3 separate regions of the Homo sapiens genome follow, and regions 1 and 2 are each linked to region 3. The links come from fine-mapping of genetic effects on gene expression. A gene starts in region 3. Each other region holds a variant in brackets. All regions are shown on one strand. Distances are from middle to middle. Region 1 has its middle 8.1 kb from the start of LINC01836. Region 2 overlaps FGF22 (fibroblast growth factor 22). Region 3 holds the start of FSTL3 (follistatin like 3).

Region 1 (2,751 bases), 98 kb before region 3:
CGGGCTCACTGCAACCTTAGCCTCCCGGGTTCAAGAGATTCTCCAGCCTCAGCCTCCCGAGTAGCTGGGACTACAGGTGCCCGCAACCACGCCTGGCTAATTTTTGTATTTTTAGTAGAGACGGGGGTTTCACCATGTTAGCCAGGATGGTCTCAATCTCCTGACCTCGTGATCCGCCCACCTCGGCCTCCCAAAGTGCTGGGATGACAGGCGTGAGCCACCGCGCCTGGCCTCAGCGTATTTATTTATTTATTTATTTGAGAAAGTGGGTCGTTCTGTTGTCCAGGCTGGAGAGCAGTGGTGCAATCATAGCTCACTGCAGCCTCAACCTCCTGGGCTCAAACAGTCCTCCCGCCTCGGCCTCCCGAGTAGCTGGGATCACAGGCACCTGCCACCACGCCGGGCTAATTTTTGGGTTTTTCATTACAGGGTTTTGCTATGTTTCCCAGGCTGATCTTGAACTCCTTACCTCAGGCGATCTTCCCACTGCGGCCTCCCAAAGTGTTGGGATTACAGGCATGAGCCACCACTTCTGGCCCCCTGTTTTCCATTATTTTGAGACCCCCCCAAATATTTAATGCCCAGATAAGTGGTGACCCGCCCCCCCCCGTGGACACACACTGCTGGCTGCCCTTCCAGCACTCACTGACCCCAGGGAAGGCTTGGGAGGCCCCAGAAGTGGATCCCGGGGAGGGGACTTGGGCAGCCCCCAGCTCAGGCCACCAGCATGGTCTGGGGGAGTGTCTGTAGGGGTACAGTCCTCACTCTGGACTGCTCCGCCACATGCATGAGTCACCTGTCCAGGCAGCACCCAGAGTGGACAAAACATAAACCATGGCCTCCCCATCTCCAGCACCATCTGTCTGGCTTAGCAGGAAACAGGGTTTGCAACCTCAAATTGAGGGTTCCAGGCCAAACCCTCAGATTTGCTCAGAAATATCCTAACATGGGCCGGGCGCGGTGGCTCACGCCTGTAATCCCAGCACTTTAGGGGACCAAGGCGGGCGGATCATGAGGTCAGGAGATCAAGACCATCCTGGGTAACACGGTGAAACCCCGTCTCTACTAAAAATACAAAAAATTAGCTGGGCGTGGTGGTGGGCACCTGTAATTCCAGCTACTTGGGAGGCTGAGGCAGGAGATGGCATGAACCTGGGAGGCGGAGCTTGTAGTGAGCCGAGATGGCTCCGCTGCACTCCAGCCTGGGTGACAGAGCGAGACTCTCAAAAAAAAAAAAAAAGAAAAGAAAAGAAAAGAAAAAAAGAAATATCCTAACATGGCCAGGCACAG[T/C]GGCTCATGCCTGTAATCCCAGAACTTTGGGATGCCAAGGCAGGCGGATCTCGAAGTTAGGAGTTCAAGACCAGCCTGGCCAACATGGTGAAACCTGGTCTCTACTAAACATACACAAAATTAGCTGGGCGTGGTGGCACCCACCTGTAATCCCAGCTACTCAGGAGGCCGAGGCAGAAGAGACGCTTGAGCCTGGGAGAGATTGTCCCACTGCATTCTAACCTGGGTGATAGAGTGAGACTCCATCTAAAAAAAAAAAAATTGCATTTTATTTTGAACAAATGAGTTTGTCCAAAGACACCATTAAGAGACTCAAAAGGGGCCAGGCACTGTGGCTCATGCCTGTAATCCCAGCACTTTGGGAGGCCGAGGCGGGTGGATCATGAGGTCAGGAGTTCAAGACCAGCCTGGCCAACATGGTGAAACCCCGTATCTACTAAAAATACAAAAATTAGCCGGGTGTGGTGGCAGGCGCCTCAGAAAAAAAAAAAAAAAAAAAAAAAAAGAAGAAGACTCAAAAGGAAAGTGCCAGACTGGGAGAAGGTACTAGCTAGCAGTGCATAATGTAATCAAGGACTCAGGTCCAGAATATATAAAGAACTCCCACAAATCAACAGGAAAATAAACAAACCAATTTGTTTTTGTTTTTTTTTTTTTTTTTGAGATGGAGTCTCGCTCTGTCACCCAGGCTGGAGTGCAGTGGCAGGATCTCGGCTCACTGCAACCTCTGCCTCCCAGGTTCAAGCGATTCCCCTGCCTCAGCCTCCTGAGTAGCTGGGATTACAGGCGCCCGTCACCATGCCCAGCTAATTTTTTGTATTTTAGTAGAGACGAGGTTTCACCATGTTGGTCAGGATGGTCTCAATCTCCTGACCTTGTGATCCGCCTGCCTTGGCCTCCCAAAGTGTTGGGATTACAGGCATGAGCCACTGCGCCCTTATTTTTTATTTTGTTTTGAGATGGAGTTTTGCTCTTATTGCTGAGGCTGGAGTGAAGTGGTACAATCTTGGCTCACTGCAACCTCCGCCTCCCGGGTTCAAGCGATTCTCCTGCCTCAGCCTCCCGAGTAGCTGGGACTACAGGCATGTGCCATGGCACCCGGCCCTAATTTTTGTATTTTTAGTAGAGACAAGGTTTCACCATGTTGGCCAGGCTGGTCTCAAACTGCTCACCTCAGGTGATCTGCCTGCCTTGGCCTCCCAAAGTGCTGGGATTACAGGCCTGAGCCACCTGTGAATTTATTGAGGGTGTTGGGAAATACCAGCCACAGAGGAGGATGCCTTGGTCACCTACTCAGGCCAGGATCACCCACCCCCTCTCCGGTGAGAGGCTGAGCACAGAGAGGTGGAGAAACTCACCCATAGCACCGAGGCCATCAGGGGACAGCCTGAGCTCTAACCTGCATCCAGGGGCCCTGGAGCTGGTCTCTCCCTGGCAGATCCCCAGAGCCGGCGCTATGCT
Region 2 (2,751 bases), 34 kb after region 3:
TCTTCGATGCGCTCCCGGAACCTGCAGTCCACGGTGTAGAGTCGCTGCGGGCGGGGGTGAGGCCGGCCCACCCTCCCCACCCTGCCCGCGCCGCCCAGCCCTGCCCGGCACTCACCGACCCGTAGAGGCGGCCCCGGCGGTTCATGGCCACGTAGAAGCCTGAGGACACTGCTTTGATGACCACGACGCCCACGTGTACAGAGCGGATCTCCAGGATGCCTGGGGGAGGCGGGGGTCGGGGAGGGCCTTGCTGGCTCACCCCCAGCACCGCTGCTGTCCGCTGTGCTTCGTGCAGGGCCCTCAGGACCACGACAGATACCAGGAGACCCCCGGGACCACGAGTCCCCTCCCGACCACGACGGACACTCAGGATCCCCCAGAGCCGTGACTGACACCAGGAGCCCCCCCCAGCATGTGAGGGAGGAGCAAGGAGCAGGCAGAGGGAACGGGAAGCAGGACGGCCCCCACGAGCTGGGGGAGTGCAGAGATCGATGAGGACCCCGTGGGAGGGCCAGGTCAGCGCTGTCCCTGCAGCTCAGCCCAAGAGCAGCATCTGTGTGTGTGTATGGCGGGGGGGCTCCCACACACCCAGAGGGACGGACGTCAGGGGGGCAGCAACACCACGAGGAAGGTTGGGAAAGGGTTCCTGGGATGTGGGAGTCAGAAGGGGCAGGGCCCACCCAGACCACTGATAACTGTCAATGAGCCAGCGACCAGCAGCACCCCAGGGAGCCCCCAGCCCGGCCCTCAGAGCTCACACCACCCCATATGGAGCCCCCAGCCCGGCCCTCACAGCTCACACCACCCCAGAGACCCCCCAGCCCGGCCCTCAGAGCTCACACCACCCCAGGGAGCCCCCAGCCCGGCCCTCACAGCTCACACCACCCCAGGGACCCCCCAGCCCGGCCCTCACAGCTCACACCACCCCATATGGAGCCCCCAGCCCGGCCCTCACAGCTCACACCACCCCATATGGAGCCCCCAGCCCGGCCCTCACAGCTCACACCACCCCAGAGACCCCCCAGCCCGGCCCTCACAGCTCACACCACCCCAGGGACCCCCCAGCCCGGCCCTCACAGCTCACACCACCCCATATGGAGCCCCCAGCCCGGCCCTCACAGCTCACACCACCCCATATGGAGCCCCCAGCCCGGCCCTCACAGCTCACACCACCCCATATGGAGCCCCCAGCCCGGCCCTCACAGCTCACACCACCCCATATGGAGCCCCCAGCCCGGCCCTCACAGCTCAGCTGCCCGGCCCACGCACAGTCACTGGGACTCCGGACTGGGACTCTGGACTGGAGGCCGGGCTGGCAGTGGCCTAGAGTGGGACACCGGTGGTTTATGGGACACCACAGACATGCTTGAGCGCCGACTGTATGCCAGCTGTCCTACCAAGCCCGCTCAGCAGCCCACGTTGCAGAGGGGCCAGTTGAGGCCTGGGAGTGGCAGAGCCAGATTTGGACGCCATCGTCTGTGGGTAGCCCTGGGTGAGCCCTGCCCCACCCTGAGCTGAAGTGTCTTGTCCAGCAAGGACCCTGGGGCCAGCCGCCACTCCTCACCCACACTCGCTCACCCCGGCCTGGGTGTCTGCCGCTTTGTCAGCTGGGTGTACAGTTCCCTGCGTGCCC[G/A]GCCAGCTCCCTGTCAAAGTGAAAGCTCCTCGGGGCAGCCTCCCAGCCCGACCTTCCAGGACACACAGGAACGTCTTTGAGGTGGTTGTTCTGGGGCGTCTGTGTCACGATCTCCCCTGGCCCCTTCCTCGCCCTGCACCTCCCCTCCCCTGGCAAGGTGCCTCCCAACACCGCCGTTCACTGTTCTGCGCACCCACCTGCACCCTTGTTCACGTCATTCACTGTTCTTTTTTTTTTTTTTTTTTTGAGACGGAGTCTCGCTCTGTCGCCCAGGGTGGAGGGCAGTGGCGCGATCTCAGCTCACTGCAAGCTCCACCTCCCGGCTTCACGTCATTCTCCTGCCTCAGCCTCCCGAGTAGCTGGGACTACAGGCGCCCGCCACCACACCCGGCTAATTTTTGTATTTTTGGTAGAGACGGGGTTTCACCGTGTTAGCCGGGATGGTCTCGATCTCCTGACCTCGTGATCTGCCCGCCTCGGCCTCCCAAAGTGCTGGGATTACCGACGTGAGCCACTGCACCCGGCCAACCGTTCACTGTTCTGTGCACCCACCTGCGCCCTTGTTCACGTGTCTAACTGCTGCGCGCCTCTGCTCTGGGAGCCCCAGGAGGGTGGGCGTCTCTGTCACCACTGGGTCCCCCATGCGGAGCACAGCACCCACAAGGTGCCCGATTAGTGACCAGCGAATGCACGAAGGGCAGGAGAGCCCTCAGCTAGCCCTCACCCCCATCACCGTCCAGCTGGGGAAACCGAGGCTTGGAGAGAGGCAGAGACTGTTCCAGGTCAGGCAGCGGAGCCAGGCCTCTGCCCCGGCCCGAGGCCACCCCGCCTGGCCATGCCCGCCATGGATGGACCGGCCCAGCCAGTCCCCTGTCCGCCCTCGTCACGTGCGGCCTAATGAGGGCCTTGGCGCCCAGATGAAAGCGGTGGGAAGGACAGGGGGTGATTACCTGCCCTGATGGTGGTGATTCAGGCGGCAGCCAGCGGGCCCGGGCCCCCTTCCCAGTGCCCCCCGCCCGGCGGGGACACCGACTCCCCTGGCCTCCAGGTACCCACATCCCCTGCTGTGCCCAGCCTCTCCTCTTGCTCCTGACATTCCACAAACACTGAGGGCCTAC
Region 3 (2,751 bases):
AAGCCGAGGAGGTTGATCTTGTTCCCCGGGTGGGTGAGGTTGGACCAGGCGGTGTCAATGTTGCCGGAGGCACAGCACTCGGCCCGGGTGACATCAGTCTGGAGCACCAGGCTGCAGGTGGCCTCCTGGCCCTGCTGGAGCCAGCAAACACCACCTGCGGGCCGGGGAACGGGGTGCTCTCCTGGGCCACTCCTGACACCCAGCTTCTGGCCCGCCCACAGATGCATGCAGGTGGTGCTGAGTAGTTACGCACGGAATGATCTACCCCCACCCAGGAAGAAGGGGCAGAAAACCACATGGGTGTCCCCACCCTGGCTCCAGAACCCTGGAAATGTCTCCTCCCCTCTGAGCTCCACGTGCCCCCCCCCACAGCCTCACCACCAACCCCCACCCACCCCAGGAGGTCCCTTCCCGTACCCTCCAAGCCCCCAGGCCAGGGGCTGGCACCCTGCCCAACCCCTCAAACACCACCAAACACCAGGCACTGGGCATGTCAGGGTCAGCAGGCCCTGGAGCCGCTTCTCCCGCCTCTGCCCTCTGTCTAGACAGCACCCGAGGGCGAGGGCACGCGGAGCCCCGCGCCTGGCAGCCCCCCCACCGCCTGGCCCGCCTCTTACTCACTCCAACTTGGGAACATTCCCCTTGCATGAGCTCACTGTCTCCCCAGGGACGTGGCCTTCGGGGAGGGGGCTCTGCTCTCCCTTTGGCGCAGGGCTGGGGTGGGGTGGGGCTGCAGGGATGGGGGGTGGGGAGCCAGAGAGCCCCCCATTTCTTCCCCCGTCCCTGGGGGCAGGAACGGCCACAGCCCCCATCCCAGAGCGCTTGCTGGTTCACAGACACTGCCAGGGACCAGCTTGTGGAACGCAGCACCTTGGCACCCATCATAGGAGGGGAAACTGAGGCCAGGAGTGGGGCCGTCTCCTGCCTGGCACCTCCCGGCAAGTCCCAGGTGTGAGACTCCATGCCCCGTCTACCCAGGACCCGGGAAAGCTCTCAGCCCCAGCTGGAGGGCCTGGCTCCCGACACCCAGCACTACCTCTCGGCACCAGGACCGACCCGGACGGTCGCGGCTAGAACCCTGGCTTTGCCTGCTACAGGCTGTGTGACCCTGAGCCTCAGTTTCCCCATCTGGAAGACGGAGATGAAGAGAGCTCCGGCACTATCGGGATGGCACAGGTTCAGGGAGGGGAGAGGTAGACACTAAGCGCTCAATAAATGTCAGCGGTCATTGTGATTAGAAACCTCTGCTCTGCTGACCTCTTGGTGACCCTCCTTCAGACCTTCCCGGCTCCAGCTTGCGCCGGACACCGCCCTCGCCCCCGCCGCCGCCGCCGCGCCCCCCGACGTCCCCCCGGCCGCATTCCGCGCAGCCCCACGTGGGTGGCCCGCCCCGCCCGCCCCTCTGGCCGCCCCACTCACCGGGCGCGGGGTTCCCCGAGCCCATGGAGCTCACGAAGCCCACGGCCCAAGCCAGGGCCCCCCAGGGCAGAGGCCAGAGTGGCCCTGGCGCCCCGGGACGCATGGCGAACGCAGAGACGGCAGCGGCACCGACTTCCCAGCGCGCGGCCGGCGCTCCCTATAAAGGTCCCGCGGGCCGCGGGCGGGGCGGGGCGCGGGGCGGGGCGCGGCGCGGGAGTGGCGGGGGCGAGGCCGTGTCCCGCGCGGGGTGGGCAGGCGCCGGGCCCGGCCGCTGCGGGGGGCAGTTGGGGGCGAGCGCCCGGGTCCCCTTCCGGAGCCAGAGAATGCATTTGGGGAGATGTGGCTGGACCCAGGGCGGAACCGGGACAGGGGTGTGGGTTCGAGGTGGTGGCAGCCTTTTGGGTGGATCGAGGGGCCGTCTCCAGGAATTAAAGTGGGTTTGGGGGTCTTCAGTTTCAGGGGTGGCGGTGAGGTAACGGGGACCCAAGAGGAGCACGTCTGTGGATCCCTGCATCCCGTTTCTGTGATTTGCATGTGGTCACTTTCATGGTCCAAGTGTGGTCTGAGCCCCCCAACCCGGCCTCCTTGTTCCCGACCCGCCCCACACACCCAAAACCTCAGCTGGATATGGTTCCCTGCTCACAGCGCGGGCCGCGCACCCGTCCACCTGGCCGCTGGAGCCGGCCTGTGGGTGGGGAGTGGTTGGGTGTGGGACAGAACGGGGTGCGGCCGGGACAGACCCAGAGACACAGCTCCTTCCAGCATCTCGGACAACAGCAGGCCTCGCCCAGCCACGGCCCCCAGGGAGGCCACTGCGTGTGTGTGTGTGTGTGTGTGTGTGTGTGCGCGCGCACGCCTGGCCTTTGTCCTGGGCCCCTGGGCAGCTCTGCCCCATCAGCCCTCCAAGCCTTTGCAGACATTCCCCCAGATCACCTCAACAAGAATGTTTACTAGGTTTTTTCCTCTCCCTCCAAGATTCAGCAAACACTGTTTCCAGCAGAGGCGTTTCCAACAATGTATGACAGCGACATCTGCGTGGGCCTGGAGGCGCTGCGCCCGAGGGGGCTTTCGTGCAGCCAGACACATTTCCTACTCTGGAGCTGATTCTGTCATGGGGGCCTCCAGATTTGTCAGGCGCCCTTGGCGAGCGCAGGGGAGCCCCTCTGTTCCTGCTTCTAGGGCATCAGTGAACATCTCTTTTGGCCAGAGGGACCCTGCGGGGTGCTGGGGTGCCACGGTGACCAAGGCAGACCCCATCACACCCTCACCGAGCTCCTGGTTTGGACAACAAAATGCAGAGACAAATTAATCTATAACTTCAAGGAGTGGTAA

Evidence for each region. PIP is the estimated chance that this variant, and not a neighbour inherited with it, causes the effect.
Region 1: its variant is fine-mapped to the expression of FSTL3 in T cells (TOPMed, PIP 0.90).
Region 2: its variant is fine-mapped to the expression of FSTL3 in whole blood (INTERVAL, PIP 0.94).

What each region holds. Positions count from the first base shown.
Region 1 is chr19:773,298-776,048 of GRCh38, reverse strand. No RefSeq gene overlaps it. Among named protein-coding and RNA genes, the nearest start is that of LINC01836, 8.1 kb to the left of the region's middle. The variant T/C (reference allele first, on the strand shown) is at 1,291.
Region 2 is chr19:640,703-643,453 of GRCh38, reverse strand. FGF22 (fibroblast growth factor 22) reads right to left here. Exons shown (of 3, transcript NM_020637.2): 2 at 116-219; 3 at 1-44. Among named protein-coding and RNA genes, the nearest start is that of FGF22, 2.2 kb to the right of the region's middle. The variant G/A (reference allele first, on the strand shown) is at 1,634.
Region 3 is chr19:675,195-677,945 of GRCh38, reverse strand. It overlaps FSTL3 (follistatin like 3), which reads right to left and starts at 1,554. Exons shown (of 5, transcript NM_005860.3): 1 at 1,420-1,554; 2 at 1-154. The coding sequence starts at 1,522.